3 linked regions of the Homo sapiens genome follow. The protein of the gene in region 1 interacts with the protein of each later gene in a biochemical or structural test. Each region holds a gene or a part of one and is shown on either strand. Other genes may lie near its edges.

Region 1 (7,108 bases):
TAATCCACACATGCACATCAGCGTGCACACAGCTCTTGCAGGGAGAACCCTGATGCCCATGGTTCGTTGATGTGGGGTTGCGAGACCCCTAGCACACAGTTGGCCTTCTCCCCTGTAAGATTCAATATGAATGTACACGTTTTACATCTGATTTCCGGAGGGCACGGACCCCTCAAAAATCCATTTGTGGACCTGTGAGGACACCACTGACCTTCAGCTCAGCCTCTGACCACAGCCGGGCGGGGGCCTGCAACAAGGCTGCTCTGTGTCGACAGCGCCACCTGGTGGCCACTATGAACCATCGGCCTGACTCCACTTTAAGAAAAACTATTCATTTACCGCCGGGTGTGGTGGCTAATGCCTGTAATCCCAGCACTTTGGGAGGCCAAGACCAGCAGATCACGAAGTCAGGAGTTCGAGACCAGCCTGACCAACATGGTGAAACCCCGTATCATCTAAAAATACAAAAATTAGCCGGGCCTGGTGGCATGCACCTGTAATCCCAGCTACTCAGGAGGCGGAGGTTGCAGGAGCTGAGATCATGCCATTGCACTCCAGCCTGGGCAACAGAGTGAGACTCTGTCTCAAAAAAAAAAAAAAAAAAAAAAAAAAAGAAAAACTATTCATTTACTTATGTTCTTTTGTAGAGATGGGGTCTTCTGTGTTGCCCAGGCTGGCCTCAAGCAAACCTCTCTCCTTAGCCTCCCAAAGTGTTGGGATTACAGGCGTGGGCCACTGCCCCTGGCACTGACTCCACTTTTTTAATTAAATTTTTTAATTCTTTTTTTTTTCTTCCTCTGAGACGAAGTCTTGCTCCATTGCACAGGCTGGAGTGCGGTGGCGCGATCTCGGCTCACTGCAACCTTCGCCTCCCGGGTTCAAGCAATTCTCCTGCCTCAGCCTCCTAAGCAGCTGGGATTATAGGCACACACCAGCACACCTCGCTAATTCTTGTATTTTTAGGGAAGATGGGGTTTCACCATGTTGATCAGGCTGGTCTTGAACTCCTGACCTTGTGACCCACCCACATCAGCCTCCCAAACTGCTGGGATTACAGGTGTGACCTACTGTGCCCGGCAACTTTTTAATTCATTTTATTTAAAAAAATATGTATATATAGGGTGGGCGCGGTGGTTCATGCCTGTAATCCCAGCACTTTGGGAGGCCGAGGCAGGCGGATCACCTGAGGTCAAGAGTCCAAGACCAGCCTGGCCAACATGGTGAAACCTCATCTCTACTAAAAATACAAAAAAAAATTAGCTGGGTGTGGTGACACACGCCTGTAGTCCCAGCTACTTGGGGAGGCTGAGGCAGGAGAATCGCTCGAACCCAGGAGGCACAGGTTGCAGTGAGTCAAGATCGTGCCACTGCACTCCAGCCTGGGTGACAGAGGGAAGACTCCCTCTCAAAAGAAAAAAAAAACAACTATATATATATATATCTATGTAGATATAGATATAAAAGTATATATGTATTTATAGATACATATAAATCTATATCTAATCTATATATATCTATGTATAGCTACAGCTATATCTATCGATATATCTATATATAGATATATAGAGAGAGAGAAGGACGGGATCTCACTCTTTCACCCAGGCTGGAGTGCAATGGTGTGATCTTGACTCACTGCAACCTCCACCTCCTGGGCTCAAGTGATCCTCCCTACTCAGCCTCCCGAGTAGCTGGGACTATGGGCGCCTGCCACCACGCCCTGCTGATTTTTATATTTTTAGGAGAGATGGGGTCTCACTATGTTGCCCAGACTGGTCTTGAACTCCTGGGCTCAAGTGATCCTCCCGTGTTAACCTCCCGAAGTGCTGGAACTATAGCCATGAGCCACTGCACCCAGCCTAGATTCAATTTTTTGGATACCTCATTTACCCTGATGTGATTATTAGGCATTGGATGCCAGTATAAAACATCTCATAAAACCCATAAATATATATACCTACTATGTACCCACAAAAATTACAAATTACAAATTAAAAAAAATAAAAAATACATTCATTAAATTTTTTTTCAAGAGACAGGGTCTCGGTCTGTGGCCCAGGCTGGAGTGCAGTGGCGTCATCACAGCTTGCTGCAGCCTGAAAGTCTCTAACCCCTGGGCTTATACATTCTTTGCTCCTCAGCCTCCGAAAATGCTGGGATTGGCTGGGTGCGGTGGCTCACGCCTGTAATCCCAGCACTTTGGGACGCCGAGGCAGGAAGATTGCGTGAGCCCAGAGTTCAAGACCGGTCTGAGCAACAAAGCAATTTAAAATTTAAAGAGCAACAAAAAATTTAAAAATTAACCAGGTGTGCTGGTGCATGTCTGTGCAAGACTCCGTCTCATTAAAACAAAAAACTAGGAATGTGAACCATCCAACGTCACACTGAATATGTATCTGTGGACGACCCCCTCTGGGCTGAGCGTGGTACCGGGTGAACGATGGTATCCTCTCCATCAGTCTTGACTGTTTGTCCTGCAAAGCCCCTGGCCGTGCCCTGCTCGCCCGCACACCTAGGTTCAAGCAGGTGGGACCAGGCGCAACTCAGGGTCCTGAGTTCACGGCGGCGGGAGAGGCGAGGTCCAGGCAGGGCGTGGCCTCAGGGGTCCTACCTGTGTACATGATGCCGTTGATCTCCACCGACATGCTGATGCTGTTGCTGCCGTTGGTGCCCGTCAGGTTCACAGCAGAGTCCTGGCGGCTTTCGGAGGCTGTGGGAAGAAGAACAAATTAGTTTCTTTTTTTCTTTTTTTTTTTGAGACAGAGTCTTGCTCTGTTGCCCAGGCTGGAGTGCAGTGGCGCGATCTCAGCTCACTGCAAGCTCTGCCTCCTGGGTTCACGCCATTCTCCTGCCTCAGCCTCCCAGTAGCTGGGACTACAGGCGCCCGCCACCACGCCTGGCTAATTTTTTGTATTTTTAGTAGAGATGGGGTTTCACCATGTTGGCCAGGATGGTCTCGATCTCTTGACCTCGTGATCCACCCGCCTCGGCCTCCCAAAGTGCTGGGATTATAGGCATGAGCCACTGTGCCCAGCCGAACAAATGAGTTTCTTTCTTTTTTTTTTTTTTTGAGACGGAGTCTCACTCTGTCACCCAGGCTGGAGTGCAGTGGTGCGATCTCGGCTCACTGCAACCTCCACCTCCAGGGTTCAAGCAATTCTCCTGCCTCAGCCTCCTGAGTAGCTGGGACTATGGGTACACACCAGCACACCCGGCTAATTTTTGTATTTTTAGTAGAGACGGGGTTTCACCATGTTGGCCAGGCTGGTCTTGAAGTCCTGGCCTCAGGTGATCTGCCCGCCTCGGCCTCCCAAAGTGCTGGGATTACAGGCGTGGGCCACCGCGCCCGACCAAAACTGCCATTTCTGATCATAAAGACACCTGTGACATGTTCTGTTTTCTGTCTGTCTCGCCAACTAGATTTTAGCTTTACAAGGTGTAGACGGTGTCTGTCACATTCATGCTGTCACCAGTGCACACAGTAGGTGCTCAATATTTATTTGTTGAATAAGTGTATTTGTCCATACTCCACTTTGTTTTTTTTTACCTTGTTTTTGAGACCAGGTCTTGCTCTGTCACCCAGGCTGGAATGCAGTGGTGCAATCATGGCTCACTGCAGCCTCGACTTCCTGGGCTCAAGTGATCCTCCCATCTCAGCCTCCCGAGTAGCTGGGGCTACAGGAGCGTGTCACCACGCCCAGCTAACTTTTGTAGAGATGGCATCTCACTGTGTTGCTCAGGCTGATCTCAAATTCCTGGGCTCAAGCAATCCTCCCATTTCAGCCTCCCAAAGTGCTGGGATTATAGGCATGAGCCACGGTGCCCAGCCAGTTTACTTTATTATTTTTTATTTTTTGAGATGGAGTTTTGCTATTGTTGCCCAGGCTGGAGTGCAGTGGCGTTATCTCGGGTCACTGCAACCTCCATCTCCCAGTTCATGTGATTCTCCTGCCTCAGCCTCCCAAGTAGCTGGGACTACAGGGGTGCGCTGCCACGCCCGGCTAATTTGTTGTATTTTTAGTAGAGATGGAGTTTCACCATGTTGCCCAGGCTGATCTCGAACTCCTGACCTCAAGTGATCCACCCACCTCGGTCTCCCAAAGTGCTGGGATTACAGATGTCAGCCACTGCACCCGGCTTTTTTTTTCTTATTGATTTGTTGGCACTCTTTACATATGTAGGCTCCAAGGCCCTCACTGTGTGACACACGCAGGAAGCACAGCGGGTCTGGGCACGAGGGCAGTACCTTGGCTGTTGATCCGAATGCTCATGGGCAGCTGGGCCGCCATGGCCAGGAAGTTCTGCTGGAGTGCACGTTGCATCAGCCGTTGCTGCTCATCGGCCACCAGGGCCATCTTCTTCTCCGGAGGCTCTGCAGACTCCAGCTTCTCCCGCAGCTGTTCCAGGGCAGCTGCCTGTGCGGCCACAGCTGCTTGGGCGGCTGCTGCTTGCACAGCTGCTGCCTGGGCTGCCACCACAGGGTGGCCCGCCAGGGACACAGGCAGGCGGCCAGGGACTGTGATGGGGATGGCTGAGTCCTCCTCTAGGTAGGAAAAAAGGGGAATTGGTGGCCAGGAGGGGCTGGGCCCTGCCTTCCACTCAAGGCAGGAACATGCACCTTCTTTTTTCTTTTCTTTTCTTTTTTTTTTTTTTTTTGAGACGGAGTTTCACTCTTGTTGCCCAGGCTGGAGTGCAATGGTGCGATCTCAGCTCACCGCAACCTCTGCCTCCCGGGTTCAAGTGATTCTCCTGCCTTAGCCTCCCTAGTAGCTGGGAAACAGGCACCCGCCACCACGCCTGGCTAATTTTGTATTTTTAGTAGAGACGGGGTTTCTTCATGTTGGCCAGGCTGGTCTTGAACTCCTGACCTCAGGTGATCCGCCCGCCTCGGCCTCCCAAAGTGCTGGGATTACAGGCGTGAGCCACCGCGCCCAGCCTTTTTTTTTTTTGCTTTGAGACAGAGTCTCGCTCTGTTGCTTAGGCTGGAGGGCAGTGGCGCGATCCCAGCTCACTGCAACCTCTGCCTCTCAGGCTCAGGTGATTCTTCTGCCTCAGTCTCCTGAGTAGCTGGGATTACAGGCGCCCACCACCACACTAAGCTAATTTTTTTTTTTTTTTTTTTTGACACGGAGTCTCACTCTGTCGCTGAGGCTGGAATGCAGTGACGTGATCTTGGCTCACCGCAACCTCTGCCACCTGGGTTCAAGCGATTCTCCTGCCTCAGCCTCCCAAGTAGCTGGGACTACAGGTGTGTGCCACCACACCCGGCTAATTTTTGTATTTTTAGTAGAGACAGGGTTTCACCATATTGATTAGGCTGGTCTCAAACTTCTGACCTCAAGCGATCCGCCTGCCTCAGCCTCCCAAAGTGCTGGGACTACAGGCGTGAGCCACTGTGCCTGGCCTAAAAAAATTTTTTTTAGACTGGGTCTCACTACTGTTGCTCAGGCTGTAGTGCAGTGGTGTAATCTCAGTTCACCACAGCCTCGACCTCCTGGGCTCAACCCATCTGACCACCTCAGCTTCCTGGGTAGCTGGGACCACAGGTGCACGTTGCCACGCCCAGCTAATTTTTTTTTTTTTTTTTGAGATGGGGTCTCACTATGTTGCCCAGATGAGAAATGGTAACTCAGACAGGCAAACTGAGGTGACACTGCTGTGTGTGCTGTTGGTACCTCTGTGTTATGGAGGATTCAGAGGCTCAGTGGGAGGGAAAACTGATCAACTGATGATGCCTGCCTCAGTGTAGACTGGAAAAACAGTGATCAATTAGTAATGTCTGCCTTGGCCACAGGACTGGAAACACAGATTGATTAGCAATGTCTGCCTGCCACCTGTGTGGAATTAGAAAATGGTGATGGATTGGTAATGTCTGCCATAGGCAGAGGACTGGTAGATTGGAAGCCCTTTTCCATGCCAACTATAGGGTTTTTCATCCTGGTTACCCAGAGAGGGGAAGAGGTATCCCCCAAGGTCAGACAGCCAGGCTGAAGCTCAGTTGGGAACACGCCCCAGGCCCCATACAGGCCCTTACCTTTCTTGATCTTAGGGGCGGGGGTGATGGAGCTGCCATTGGTGCTTGCGGCCAGGCCCAGGGAGGACACGGGTAGCTTGGGTGAGGAGAGCATGCCGTGTGCCCCGCCTGGCGAGTAGGCAAAGAGGGAGCCACCAAAGCTCTGGCGCCGGCCCTCCCGTCGGTTGCTGTCTATGGCTGCCTGGAGCTCATTGGGGTTACTGAGGCCCCGCTTCTCACACTCGTAGGGGTACAGGTACTTCATGTATCTGTGGGTGGGACGAGGGAAGAGGATGGCACCCGGGTCACCCCTACGGCTCTCTTTGGCCTTCAGTACAAAGTAAACCCCACTGTGGCACCACCATCCCTGGTTCTTCCCTTGGACTTGCTCAGCAGCCCCCAGAGCTGCTGGGCCTTTGCCCATTCCCTCCATCTCAATGCTGTTCCTCGCAATGGCCCCTGATTGCACAACCCCAGAGACTGTGTGGTCCTCGCACCCCTACTTGACGCTCTCGGGCCCTGGACGCACGGTGTGGCCCTGTGCCCTTTGCGGCTGCCCACTGCCCCCTCCTCTGCAGCTGCCCACCACCCCCTCCCTCTTCTGCAGGCCCCTTGCACTGGCTGCTCAGAGTGCCCTGGCCCGACCTCGGCACAACCGTCCGCCACTCACTGGGTCCGCAGGGTGAAGGCTGCACTGGTGATGGACGTGGGCAGGTTGAGGCCCTTGGTGATCTCACGCCACAGCTTCTTGTTGATGACCTCCACGAGGCCGCCCTTCTCCGTCACCAGCACGTACAGCATGAACAGGTCAAGGACCTGTTTGGCCATGATGGGGATGCGGTTCACAGGTGTCCCTGGGGGAAGGGGCGAGAGGGAGGTTGGGGGCCACCTGGGCACTGCAGGGAGCCGAGTGTCCTGGCCTCCGCCCTCTCCATGCCAGGAGCACTCCCCCGCCCAGGCTGTGACAACCACAGATGTCTCCAGACATTGCCCAGGGCCCTCTGTGGGTGCAGGATCATCCAGGCTGGGAACCTCTGCTCGAGAGGGTGCAGAGGGGGCAGCTCTGCCTCGGTTTATCCACCAGTAACCTGGGCTTAG
Region 2 (7,108 bases), on another chromosome or scaffold:
ACTTTATCACTGCAGGGGATGGTGTTTCCTGTGTATGTGATGGGTTGGCAGGTGTCAACAGATTCTTCTACCCCCCTCAGACGGAGTCTTACTCTGCCACCCAGGCTGGAGTGCAGTGGCACAATCTTGGCTCACTGCAATCTCTGCCTCCTGGGTTCAAACAATTCTCTTGCCTCAGCCTCCTGAGTAGCTGGGATTACAGGCACCTGCTACCACAGCCAGCTAATTTGTTTGTATTTTTAGTAGAGATGGGGTTTCACCATGTTGGCCAGGCTGGTCTCGAACTCCTGACCTCATGATCCATCCGCCTTGGCCTCCCAAAGTGGTGGAATTACAGGTGTGAGCCACCGCGCCTGGACAACGGATTCTTTTATTAATGTTTATTAAGGACTCAGGTGAAATATAATGAAGTTAAAGACTATTAAAAAATAGTTGACATCTCTAGCGTTCCCTGTTTTCATTCAGATTTGATTACAATCTGGAGTAGCCTGATACAGTATCTATGAGCATGTTCATTGTTGGCAATATGGTACCTGTAGCATTCTGGAACCTGAGGGGGTTTAGGGATGAATTAACCAATATCCTGTAATACAGCCTTTACATGGGTTGAGTCAGCTTAGTGTAGATTAATCAGGGAGCTACTTAGAGGGTTTTGTAATGCTTCCTGGACCAGCTTCATATTTCACGTGTTGTCTGGAAGGTGGACCCACATAAATTGGATTCATTTTTCAAAGCAAGAAAGAAATAGTTTAACCTTGATGTTTTCCTTAAAAACATGATTGGCTATAGTGTGAAAAGAATGTATAACTCTATTTATTAGGCAGTACAATATTAACATCCCTCTGAACTTATCTAGTTGGGTCTTACTAAATGTAGTTCTGAGTTACATTACTCATTAGCAGTGTTCTAAAATTGAAACATTGAAGAATCACTAATTTTAGCTGTTTATCTTATTACTAACAAGTAGTTTATTTTTTAGTTTTGTTTTTAATATTGCAGGATCACAGTAGTAGAAGGGCATTCACACATCATCTTGTCTAATTATTGCCTGTGTCACCTGAACAGCAGTGCCATCTTTTGTGCCTCACTCAGTGGTTTTCAGTTGGGTGCCATACTAGAATATCTGGGGAGGAACTTTTGAAACAATTCAGGGCCTGGGCTCTCCCCTAGATCAACTACATCAGAATCTTAGAGTGGGGCCTGGTTATTGATGTTTTTTAAAAAAAAATTTACAGATGATTCTTATATGCATCCATAATTGAGAGTGACTGATTTAGAGTCTAGATGCTCAACTAGTGTTTCTCAAACTTCAGTATGCAACATAACCACCTGGACTGCTAGTGAAAACACCTGGAAGGGCTACGTTGCTGGGCCCCAACCCCAGAATGCCTGATTGAGTAGGCCTGGGTGGGCCCCAGCATTTTCATTTCTAACAACTGCCCAGGGGATGCTGATGCTCCTAGTCCGGGAACACACTTTGAGAATCAGTGATCTAGATCAGCGCTGTCCAGGGGAAATAGAATGTGAACCACGTATGTGATTTAAAATTTTTCTAGTAACTACATTAAAAAGAAACAGGTGAAACTAATTTTAGTATATTTTATTTAAGCTATTGTATCTAAAATACTATTTTGACATACAATTCAATATAAAAATTATTGATCTCTCATATTTTCTTTTTCTTTTTCTTTTTTTTTTTTTTTTGGAGACATTAGAGTTTGTTGTTGTTGCCCAGGCTGGAGTGCAATGGCACGATCTTGGCTCACTGGAACCTCTGCCTCCCAGGTTCAAGCGATTCTCCTGCCTCGGCCTCCTGTGTAGCTGGGATTACAGGCATGCGCCACCATACCTGGCTAATTTTGTATTTTTAGTAGAGACGGGGTATCTCCGTGTTGGTCAGGCTGGTTTCAAACTGCTGACCTCAGGTGATCCGCCTGCCTTGGCTTCCCAAAGTGCTGGGATTACAGGCATGAGCCACCGCACCCGGCTGATGATCTCTCATATTTTCTTATATGACCGCTTCAGAATCTAGTATTTTACACTGATAGCACACCTCACTGTGGATTAGCCACATCAGATGCTCAGTAGTCACATGCGGTTAGCAACCACTATTAAACAACACACATCTAGACAATTGCTGTGAATTGCTAGTTATAGAAATTGGCAGAATCCTGAGTCTATATAGTCTACCTCCGTAGAGCTAAGGTGAAATTACCTTTTATTTGCCAAAATCTATGTCTCTGTGGCTTCCAGGTTTTCGTTTTATTATACAGGTATAATTTTAATTTCACATGACAGTTGGAGGTATTGATCACGTCCCCCTGAGCCTTCTTTAGGCCAAACATCACTAGTAGTTCTTCATATTGTATTAAAGCCACATCATTTATCTGAATACGTCTCTCTTAAAATACAGTAACTAGAATGGTACCCAGTACCCTATCTGGTCTGACCCCAAATAATAAAACCTTTTCCTTTTTCTGCACATTTACTATTATTACTGCAGTCTAGAGAGCACGTTAGGTTTTTTGGTGCGTGTGTTGCAATATTGTCTAATAGTAAATTATTGCGCACTCAAAACATTTGCGTGCTCTTTATGTAATTGGTTGTTTTTGTGAACTCAAATGCGAGACCTGCCATATATCCCTATAACACAGTGGTTCTCAAGCAGGGATGATTTTGCCCTCCAGGGGACATTTGGCAATGTCTAGAGACATCTTTGGTTGTCACAACTGATGGGGAGGGAGGTAGTGATGTGCTACTGACAGCTAATGGCAGAGGCCAAGTATTCTCCTAAACTTCCTACAGTGCACAGGACAGCCTCCCACAACAAAAAAATGATCCTGGAATGTCAATAATGTGGAGATTGAGAAGCCCTGCTATAGGTAATGGTGAGAGTGTGAACTCAGGAAGTGGCCCAGATCTCCTAGAGGCCCTTTGGGCAGCGGTGCTTTGTTCTCATGAGTTTCTTGAGTGCTCTTATTGGGCTCACCTAAGGAAACCCAGGTCACTGGAGTGTTTGTTCATTACCTTGTAATCCTGTCAGAAAAGGAAGTGATTTGTCTATTTTGGCTTGTTTTGGGTGAGCTCAAAGAAAGTTTGGTAAGTAATGAAAAGCATATTAAAAAATGTAACAATTAAAACTCTTAAATATTATTTTTAATTCTGCTGCCTAGGGGTAACTATGGCTATCATTTTGGTGTTGACATTCGAGCGAGAGCCACGTTATTTGGACTTGGATCCTGGGCCTACCACTTACTAGTTTTGTGACCTTGGGCAGGTTTCCCCTGAGGGATGGTAATAGGACCTATCTCAGAGTTGTGAGACACAACATGTTTAATACATATAAAGTGTTTAGGACAGTCCCTGGCACATTGTAAGAACTATTTAAGTGGTTGTTTCTGTGTGTTTTCTTGGCATACGTTTGTGTGTGTTTCTGTGTCTGTGTATGTGTATAGTGTACAGATGAACTTGGTTGAGTTCATGTGGCATATACAGTTCTACACCTACTTTTTTGGAGAACATTTGCTCATGTTATTAAAAGTTCCTAGCAAACATGTAACTGTAGAATACCATGAATTTTGGTACATTAAATGTAAAATAACTACATAAATTTGTGATAAATCACATCTCTTAAACTAAATTCAAGAATAGGCTAGTGGTGGCAGATGCTGATTAAGAAAAGTTTGAGGGAAAAGCTTGACATTTAAATTGTTTTATCGATTAACTTACTTTTCTCCATGGTTGAAAAAAGACTGCCATTGTCAGATTTTAGCAAGACACCTCAGTCTAGCCTACAGAACTCTATATTCCACTCCTTCTAGAATCTTGTCTTAGATTGTTGGAAAGCTTCTTGGTTTTTAATTTATAGAAGCTGTCTTAATTCTCCCCTCCCCTGCAAAAAAAAAAAAAGTATATATTCTTATACATTAGAAGAGATTCCAGCCTTTCTATAGCTTTCTGTTGAAAATTCACTTTTCTGAGTTGAAAAACAAAACCCCCTTTTTTCCTACACATTTAGACATGAAATCTTTCTGAAAGTGATGAGTTTATACTTTGGAATTACAGTATCATAGTTTTTCATTTGGAAGAGTAAACAGTTGGGTGTAAAACTGGACAACTGTTTGGCTTCAGAATTGTTTATTTCTGTAGTTTTAAGGATACCAGATTGTGTTTGTCTTGTTTGAGTCTCTGTGTATCTAAGCCTCTGTGTTTGTGATAGTTCGGAATTTAGAAGCCTTTGAGGGGTTTGAAAGTAAAGATAACTCTTACAGTTTATTACCAGTATTTTAATTTTAGAGAAACAAAATGTGGTGTTTAAAGTTTTCATTTGGCAGGAATAACAATGGCATTGTTGCTCCCTGGGTGCTAAGTGAGGAGGCAAGGAGGAAGTGTCTTTCCATAGTACAACTGTTTGTTGTCCAAGTGCTTTCCTTCTCATGACTTTCTCCACTATGTTCTTAGGACTCAAACAGAGTATTGTTCAGTTGTTAGTATTGGCAGCTTGACAAATTGCTATTTTTTGGGTACTATTTGTTAAATGAATGATTACTTAGCTGGGTAGCTGTAGTGGAACTTGTTTTAGAAAAGAGGCTGTAGATAGGACATGATTTTGGAAGAGGATCTGTAAATCATAGCCCTTAGGCATGGAATGGCCTATAAGGTCTGGACCTTGTAGTAAGGTGGTTAGTGTATCACCGGCTCCACTTGTTGAAGCAGCTGAGGCCCAGGGAAGTTTGATGACTCTCCTGAGTCAGCCAGCTGGTACATGGGGAATAGAATCCTTGTTTGCTGCCTCTCAAGAAGGTAATATGGTTGAATATGCCCTCATGCTGTCCCCCGTGGTCTTGGAAGAATCCTGGACTATTAGAGTTGAGTCTTTACCTCTGTGTGCACAAAATATTTCCATGGATGATCTGGCATGAAGCATCATTGTTTTAGACGAACTAAGTTCATTTTTGAAAGGTCTTGACTCGTGTTGTTGTTTTGACAGCAATTGCTTGTTCAGAGCTCTTGGTGATCAATTGGAGGGACACTCACGAAATCATCTCAAGCACAGACAGGAGACAGTGGACTACATGATAAAGCAGCGGGAAGATTTTGAACCCTTTGTAGAAGATGACATTCCTTTTGAGAAGCATGGTAGGTTCACTGTGGGACATTGTGTCCTTCAGGAGTAATGCATTGGGTAATTAAGTCCACTGGCATCCTCCCCCCTCCCAGCCAAGGGTTTGGTTATATAAATCACGACATTCATTTATTCAAGAAATATTTGTTTGCCTACTTGGTTATCGGCAGTATGCTAGGTAGTTGGGGATCAGTAGGTTTAGCTGTATATGCCCTTAATAAACATGATGGTATTAATTGACCTGAAAAGCGATTCATGACTTCTTACTCTGTGGGGTGGGAAAAGCAGGCTATAACATAGCTTGTATAGGTTGATCCTATTTTTAAAAGGTATACAGACACAGTAGGAAAAGTCTGGAAAGATACTAACATTTTGTTTGTTAATTCTTAGCTTCACTTATTTTTCAGAAATTACTCATTCTCTTTAAACTTCTATAGAAGGGAGATAATAATAGCATCTATCTCACAGGGTTTTTGGTGAAGATTAAATTAGATAACAAAATTAAAATAAGCCCTTAGTAAGCGTTAGCCATCTGGGGATGATGGGACTATGGTATTTTAAATTATCTTTTATAGACTTTTTCTGACTTTTAGATGATCATGTATTACTTTTAAAATTAGAAAAACCAATAAAATCATGTTAATTTCTCACCCAAACCCCAAACACAATCTGTTTTCTTTGAGGCAAGTCAGTTAGTGATTTTAATTGGTTCCTATTTAATAGGCATAGATCTTATAGAAAATGCATATGAACTTGTAAACTTTAATTTCAACAAATATTTACTGAGGATCTACTGTGCTTGCTGCTGATATGTCTTACAAATGGCATTTTCATCACAGGGCTTATAGTCTTTTCTGTCTGTTATCAGGAAAGAGAATTGATCCTTTGTTTTAGAGAGCTAAGTCTGGAGGCCATGCCAAGAATGGATGGGGAGAGAGACTGATAAAGGAGACTAGTTAGAAGGTCTCCACACTGGCCAGATGAGAGTAGAGGAGGTCTCCATCAAGGTAGCTACTGAGGATAATGAGTAAGGCCCAAACCAAGCCACACTTTGGCAGTATAATTGACAGGACACATTGGAGGTGAGGAGGGGAGAGGGAGGAGACAAGAGTGATTCTGAAGTTTCTGCTTAGGGAATGGGTAATTGGCTGTACCGTTAGCAAGAGAGAGGGCAGCAGGAGGGGGACATTTGGGAGAAAAGGTATCAGTGATCCCAAAGTGTTTCCCATTCCTTACTAGGAAAGAACTTACTCAGTAGGCACCAGACACAGAGCAACAAAACTTCCAATGGGTGGTTTGTACCAATCACTGAGTTCAGATGGTCCCTCTTCCTGGGATTACTTTTTGGCTAGCAGATATGCATAGTTTACTGGATAGTCAGCAGTTTACAAATTAAATGTTTGTATATGGGACAAATTTTGTAGTTTAGTGCTGTACGAAATGAATTGTGTCATTAATCCAATGAAAACATCATTTTGGATGAAACGGGTTTTTAGTTTGTGATGTGAAACTCCACTTTGAACACTGTCAGTGAAGATCACATGGTGGATTTTGGGGTGTTACAGGATAGGGAACTCAAATCTTCGGTTGCCAATGTGATAGTCACTTGAGATGAACAGTGGAAAGGTGTTTTCTTGAAATGTCACTATGCATGCCTGTTGCTTGGAGCTGCTTAAGAATTTGAGCATCACAGAAGTAAGAAGTCACTTTGACGGCCAGAGCAGAAATGAAAAGAAACCTGGAAGTCTGCACATTCTCTTTGTGTGTCAGTTGAAGGCTTGGCTTGTTACATTGGTGAGTCTTGAGTCATAGTTACCTGTTTTTAATGTCAGTGTGCTGCCTACCTTGTTGTACTGTGAGATTCTCAAGGGCAGGGACTGTGTGTCTTTGTTTTGCGGTGTGGCAGTGCCCGGCATCTGGTAGACATTCATAAAGTGAATAAATGAATGGTTCACTATACTATTAAGGACCTGGTCACCCTTG
Region 3 (7,108 bases), on another chromosome or scaffold:
AAGGCCCTTCCTATGGAGAGGTAAGGTTCTCCCCAGCCCCAGCCTTCCCTCCTGAAGGCCTGAGTTCCACCAGGAAAGTGAGCTGGCACTGGGGTGGGAATCCAGGCCTTCATCAGATCAGCTCTTTGTGGGAAAGTGTTTGCTCAACGCCTTCTCTGTGCTCTCCCCTGTTCTTGGCTGCATGGTCAGGGAGCTTCCCATAAGCATGGCCCACTCCCAGCCCAGCAGGGGTGCTGAGACACTCAGGGTTGTCAGAGGCCAGCAGAGACTGGTGGACAGCAGATAGTACCAGCTTGGGAAGGCTTCCTGTCTGAAGAGAGACGTAATCTGCGTGGTTGAGAGCAGAGGAGAGGGGACAGCAGGAGCAAAAGGGTGGCCACAAGTCCCTGGCAGTCAGGGCAGGCTCTGCCCACTCACCCCTGCAGGCACCTGACCTGGCTCTGTGACTCCCTCTATGCAGGATGTCTCCAATACAACGACAGCCCAGAAGAGGAAGTGCAGCCAGACCCAGTGCCCCAGGAAGGTCATCAAGATGGAGTCTGAGGAGGGGAAGGAGGCAAGGTTGGCTCGGAGCTCCCCGGAGCAGCCCAGGCCCAGCACCTCCAAGGCAGTCTCACCACCCCACCTGGATGGACCGCCTAGCCCCAGGAGCCCCGTCATAGGAAGTGAGGTCTTCCTGCCCAACAGCAACCACGTGGCCAGTGGCGCCGGGGAGGCAGGTAGGGAGGTGGGTAGGGCAGTGGCCTGGGTGCTGCCCGCCAGGGTCTGGGCGGTGCCCCTCTTCTGTATTTTGGCCCCATCCAGAAAGCCCAAAGCCAACAGGAGTCCCTTATTCCCACTGAATAAGATAGGGAAAGTTCACAGTGTGCGTGGGGGTGAGAGTGGACACAGTTTACCATGTGTTTTGCCATGATTGAGGTGTGGGGAGCCTGACAGGCTAAAATGCACAGTTCTATGAGTCCTTTCTCCCAAACACTACTGTGCCTTTGCACAGGGCAGGTCTCCACAAGAAGTTTGTTGGCTGATGCCTAGCATACTCCCAGAGAGGGCTTGGGCATACCATAACAGGAAACTGGACTCCCCATGACCTTAACTCTGCTCTCTCAGTCTACACCCATCATTTCCCCAAGTGTTTCTGCAAAGGCCACCTACCTAAGTATCTCATTTGTCAGAGTTATCTTCTATGAACACTGCCAGGCAGGTAGTCAGTTGGGCAGGAGTTGAGGTCAACCCAGAGGAATCTGGAACAAGAGAGTTCTAAGGATCTGCTTCACCCAGAGTACAGCTTTGTTCCTCATTCTGACTGAGCCCTAGCCTTGGTCACACACTGAGCACTGACTGATATTCCTTACCCACAAATGCTATTGGTAATCGATGGGTTTTGATTAACTAAATGAAGCGTCTTTTAACTCTAGACATCCCAGCTCATGGAGCTGAGAATGGGGACAGTGTGCTTCTTTAGGATTGCAGAAGGTTCCAGACCAGGTAGCAGTTGTCAGGCCTCCTGTACAGGGGGCAAATTCTGAATTCTGGGCAGATAACTTAATTGAATATTCATAGATAAGGCACAGCAAGAAATTATGGAAACCCATTTGTGAATTACTCAAATCCAAATGCAAAGCAGAGTCACATTGGCACACACAGTGGCTGTTCCCGTCCCCCTGCAGGGCATCCGTTTCCCCCAGCCGACTGGCCTGCAAGGATTCCCATAGGTGCACACCCACACCCCTCCCAGCATGCATCCTAGGCAGTTCATAATGCATCTCCCCTTCCCCGTTTCAGAGGAACGCGTTGTGGTGATCAGCAGCTCGGAAGACTCAGATGCCGAAAACTCGGTGAGTGGCCCAGAAGTTCAGCCCAGGACTCCTGCCTCCCCCCATTTCAGGTCCCAGGGGGCACAGCCACAGCAGGTGACTCTCAGACTTGCCTTGCGCCTGGGGAATTTTCCAGTGAGGCATTGAGTCCCAAGCTGTGCTGAGGACAGTCTCCAAATGACAGCTGCATGCCTGGACCACCCCAGCCCTCCCACTACACCAGGGCCAGGAGCTCTTCTGAAATGCTGATAGCATGTGTCCAGAGCCCTGTCTCTTTTCTGGAATGTCCAAGACCTTTGTCTGGAGCTTCCTTATGCATTTTCTGTCCTCTAAGTCCTCAGTGAGGAGGGCTGGACAAGAATCCATTCCTTGGTTTATTACAGCCAGTGGGGGCCAGTGAAGGGGTGTCAGGCCACAGGGCAGCTATATAGGGGCCAAACAAGTGAGGTTTGACTCCATCCATGTAGAAAGATATATAAATCCATTCCACAGTGAAACAGGTGGCCTCGTGGGTAGTGACCCTTCTGTCCCTAGAGGTTTATTACTAGAGGCTGGACTATCACCTGTCCAGGGGAAAAGGGGATCTGAATAGAGTGAAAGGTTGGACTGGGTGGCCCCTGAGGTCTCTTCCAGCCCTCAGTCTGAGGTTCTGTATTGGAAAGTGCATGGAGCCCATGGAGACCGCCGAGCCACAGTCCTCGCCAGCCCACTCCTCGCCAGCCCACTCCTCGCCAGCCCACTCCTCGCCAGTCCAGTCTCTGCTGAGAGCACAAGGAGCCTCCAGCCTGCCCTGTGGCACATACCACCCCCCAGCTTGGCCTCCCCACCAGCCCGCTGAGCAGGCTGCCACCCCCGATGCTGAGCCTCACAGCGAGCCTCCTGATCACCAGGAGCGCCCTGCCGTCCACCGTGGGATCCGCTACCTGTTGTACAGAGCACAGAGAGCCATCCGCCTTCGCCATGCCCTCCGCTTGCACCCTCAATTGCATCGGGCCCCTATTCGGACTTGGTCTCCCCATGTGGTCCAAGCCAGCACTCCTGCCATCACAGGGCCCCTCAACCATCCTGCCAATGCCCAGGAACATCCTGCCCAGCTGCAAAGGGGCATCAGCCCACCCCACCGGATACGAGGGGCTGTGCGATCCCGCAGCCGCTCCCTCCGGGGCTCCTCCCATTTATCCCAGTGGCTCAACAACTTTTTTGCCCTCCCCTTCTCCTCCATGGCTTCCCAGCTTGACATGTCTTCCGTGGTGGGGGCAGGGGAAAGCAGAGCCCAGACTCTTGGAGCAGGTGTTCCCCCTGGGGACTCTGTCAGAGGCTCCATGGAGGCCTCTCAAGTCCAAGTGCCTCTGGAAGCCTCTCCAATTACATTCCCACCACCCTGTGCCCCAGAAAGGCCCCCCATCAGCCCAGTCCCAGGCGCCCGTCAAGCAGGCCTCTGAGAGTGCTACCCTTCTCTTGTAACCTTGCAGCCAACACCCCTGCCCGGCCCCTGAGCTGCCTCCTCCAGCCCATGCTCTTACAGGCCCTGCACAGAGTAGCACTCATTAATTCTTGGTTAAGGAATGAATCAACGAATGAATGGCTATGCATGGACCTCTGGGCAGGGAGACCTGGGTCTTCTCTGGCTGAGAGGGGAAGGCTAAGGCATGGCTGAGATTCAAGCCACCATTCCAGGCCTCTTTGCCCAAGAAAGAAACTTCTGTCACCCTTGCACTCTCCTGTATTCTGAGTCCCTGGCCAATAGCACAGCCTTCCATGCCCCGACCCCCACCCCAAGCCTCTCCACTAGGCCTCTGCCAGGATCTAAGCCCATGAGCACAGGGACTGGCTATCCCAAGACCTGGCAGATGTGGCTGCTCAATAAACACTTGTTGAACCATCACCCTTGCGAACCCTTATTCCACGACCATCGCGTTCTCCGATGGATCCAGCTCCTCCCTGCAGGCTGTTCTCTCTTCCCTATGCTGGAACTCAGTTCTCCTCTGGGGATACCATGTCCCCTCTTCCTCCCACACTCATGGGCATCAGAGGTGGGAGGTAGGGTCAAGGCCCCCTGCTTCCTGGACTGTTCCAGCCCCTTCCTGGCCGTCTGGTAAGATCCTCTGTCCCTCTCAGGGTGGGCCCCATGCTCCCCAGCTCATCCCAGACACCCACCTGCCCACCCTCATTGAGGGCAGACGTGAGCATTCACCTCCCAGATTTCTTCTCCCTGCTCAGGTCCTGCCTTCCTCCTGAGTGACTTCTATTTCCACCCACCTGCCCGCCACTCCTTAACCTCTCAGGGGTTGTCACCCCATTCCCCCAGACAGCTGCCTGCCCCGTGGCCGTGCCCTGCACCTTGCCATCACCGAGCACTGTCGGTCCCTCAGCCGGTCCTCTCAGACTCTGACCGCAGCCTCCTGTTCCTTGAGCTCTCAGTCCTACCTTCGCCTCCCTCCAGCCCCGCGCACTCCCCATTTCATCCCATCTTTCATCAGAATTGCAGCTCCCTGCCCAGCAGAAAATCCTGGAAGGACTCAGGAGCTTGTCGCCTCTGTGCTGCCACCTGGAGACCGAGATCTGCAGGAGAAAGGCCTGGGAAAACTATGAGTGGTTGCCTGTGACTGCTAAGGGCTCCTTGGTGCTCCGCCCAGCATGTCCTTTTGCTCTGCAGGGCAGCCCCCGCCTGCCTTTCTTCACTGGGCCCTTGTCCCAGCCTCACCCTCAGCTGATGGCGGCACCTTCTGCTCCAGGGAGAAAACAGGAGCTCTCCAATGGCATAGGGACAGTTGACATCTTGCTATTTACAGATCCCCATCGCACCCCTTCCCTGCCCTCGTTAGGGTGGAAGGGATGTCCACCTGCCTCCAGGACTCACCCTGTGTCCTGGCCCCAGCCCTTGACCCCCTGGGAGCCTCACTCCTCCTCCTCATCTCTCTTGCATCTTCTAATGTATCCACTGCCTTCTGAACTAAACACCCTGAATGAGGTCTTTCTCATCTCAGAAAACTCCACCCACTTCTCTCTCCAGCTGTCGGCTCCCCTTCCTCTGCTCTCCTTGTTTACACTTCAGCCCCCTCCTTGCCCCTTCTTCACCCCACCTCCTGCGCTTCCCCGCCAGTACCAGGGTGGCCTCTGTGCCTCTAGGTGCAGTGTCGCGTTTAGTCGTTATTATTCTTGACCGGCGCTGGGCCCGGTCTTTCCTGGAAAGATCGCCTGCTCGGATGCAGCTCTGGGCACTCCTCCCTCTCCTCTGCAGGCTCTGTTTTTTCTTGGTTGTGGTGCTCCTGCAGGTTTGCTGCTGGGCCCTTTCCTCTTTTCAGTCTGTGTATTCTCCCAGGTGCTCTCAGCCACGCCCCTGACTTCAGTTACTGCCCAGGGGTAGCTGATACCCAACACTCGCACCTGCCTGCCAGACCAGCATGGCCAGTGACCTTCCAACAGCTCCGCATGGATGCCCATAGGTACCTCAAACTCAGCACCTTCTCCTCCCGTCTCACTGGCTCGCCCCACTCTCTGCCCGGTTGCACAAGCCAAGACCCCATAGCCACCCAGGGCACCCCCCTTTTGATTATTCCTCACATCCAACCAGTTATTGAGTCTTGTCTTTCTAGGGTGTAAATTCCTCTGAAATCTGGGCACTTCTTTCCATCCCATAATCTTGGTAAAATTAAAGCTACCACTGACCCTGGGTAGAGGCAGAAGCCTGGGAAGGAAAGGTGGAGAACAGGTTTGGAGTGCCAACAGTGTCCCCAGATGTCATGGAGAATCAAGTAGAGGGACCCCAGCAATATTGGGGGTGGGGCGGGGAGTATGTAATGCTCAGCTATCAGCAAGGAGTCATTAGGGGCTATACAGTGAATTAAGGGAGGGGGTAAAAGCACATTTCAGGTGATGATGAATTAAATACCTAGGAGCTCACATTAGAGAGCAGGCCTAGAGACGTGGGGAGAGAGCCAGAGGACCGCTGCTTTTGTGTATGTAGCTTTAAGACACAGGTTTTAAAAATTGTTATAGGAGTCCCAAACTTTAGAAAATATATATTTTAAAACCCCAACAAATTAGGTCCCCCCTATGCATTTCTCACCCAACTTCTGGGCCCTTTCCAGACCCCTGGTGCCCCCAGAGTACACCCAGCACCACCACTGCAAATTCCTACTCCCCAGCTTGGAGGGGGTGGGGTGATATTCCCAAGGTGATCCCGGCTCCCACCTAACCCATCCTCCCCAGCTCTGCAGCTTATATCCAGCTTTGCAGTGAGGAAAGTTGCAGAATACTGGTCTGCTACATTACTACTTTCCAAGTGTATCAGGGCATTTAGGAACCCCTCCCTTGAGCTTCACCTGTGTCCTAGGGATTCAGTGAGAGACTGTTTGTGCAAGAAGGAGCGAGAGGCAGCAGGGCATAGTCATGGGGTGGAGCAGTGAGTCCCCCAGGCCTGGTTGTGGAGTACCTGGGGTGAGGACTTTGCTTAAAAACTGCCAGAGTGGGTCAGCAGTGCGCCTGCCCTGGGGCCCCTGCTTTAGGATCCAAAGTGGAAAAGATAGGTGTTTTCACCCACTCTTGTGACAGATTACTGGCTCCGGTGCCTTGGTGGCAGCAGCAACAGGAGGGGGCCAAGGTGAGGGGGCAGCCTGTGGCAGAAGTGGCAGTGGTGACGGCGGAGGAAGGGAGGCCTGTGGGGAATGGCTGATCCAGGGGAGGGGCCGTGGCACTGGTGAGTGTGCATCTGAGAAAATGAAACGGAGGTGCTGGCCAAGAGGCTGGAGCTAGGCAGAAGGGCAGCAGAGGCCACAGGCTGGCCGAGTTTATGGTCCAGTTCACTCATAACATGTGCAGTATTCCTGGGGTCTTTGAGGCTTTGCAAGAGCTGGGGTTTTGTGTCTGCAGAAAGATAGCAATGCATGTGTCTTGCCAAACTGATCCCAGCTGTAGCTGATGCTTAAGTGCTCAGAAAGTTCTTCAGGAGCTTGAGGGCTCTTGATAAGCATGAATGTCAGATGTTCTGTATCTTCCAGAGGCTGGATGCTGACTATCAGAGTTTGGCTTGTGTTTGGCTGATGAGCAAACCTGGAATGAATCAGTGATAAGGACAATTGTTCTCAAGCTGGCTGTACACTGGGGAGTTTTCCCAACTACAGATTCCTAGGTCCTACGCCCTGAGATTCTAATCGAATCAGTCTTGGGTGCAGCCTGGGCCTCAGTTTTTTCTTAAAGCTATGAATGCCTAACCAAAGTCAAGAACCACTGAATCGGGGGATTCATTGCATGTCTGTGGTAGAGGAATGCTGCTCATTTGTTTATAGATGTGG

What was found.
Region 2: the proteins of ARID3A (region 1) and OTUD3 form a complex in vitro, tested with the Homo sapiens proteins (one study listed by BioGRID).
Region 3: of the proteins of ARID3A (region 1) and PML, one has a biochemical effect on the other in vitro, tested with the Homo sapiens proteins (one study listed by BioGRID).

The regions. Positions count from the first base shown.
Region 1 is NC_000019.10:964,004-971,111, reverse strand, and holds part of ARID3A (AT-rich interactive domain-containing protein 3A), read right to left. Parts: intron 6,865-7,108; coding exon 6,681-6,864; intron 6,280-6,680; coding exon 6,032-6,279; intron 4,541-6,031; coding exon 4,244-4,540; intron 2,708-4,243; coding exon 2,609-2,707; intron 1-2,608. UniProt on the Homo sapiens protein: Transcription factor which may be involved in the control of cell cycle progression by the RB1/E2F1 pathway and in B-cell differentiation.
Region 2 is NC_000001.11:19,885,395-19,892,502, forward strand, and holds part of OTUD3 (OTU domain-containing protein 3), read left to right. Parts: exon of another isoform or gene 1-4,765; coding exon of another isoform or gene 4,766-4,803; intron 4,804-4,809; exon of another isoform or gene 4,810-4,990; coding exon 4,991-5,139; intron 5,140-7,108.
Region 3 is NC_000015.10:74,032,696-74,039,803, forward strand, and holds part of PML (protein PML), read left to right. Parts: coding exon 1-20; intron 21-460; coding exon 461-719; coding exon of another isoform or gene 720-727; intron 728-1,782; coding exon 1,783-1,835; coding exon of another isoform or gene 1,836-1,961; exon of another isoform or gene 1,962-2,476; coding exon of another isoform or gene 2,477-3,256; exon of another isoform or gene 3,257-3,311; coding exon of another isoform or gene 3,312-3,365; exon of another isoform or gene 3,366-3,699; intron 3,700-7,108.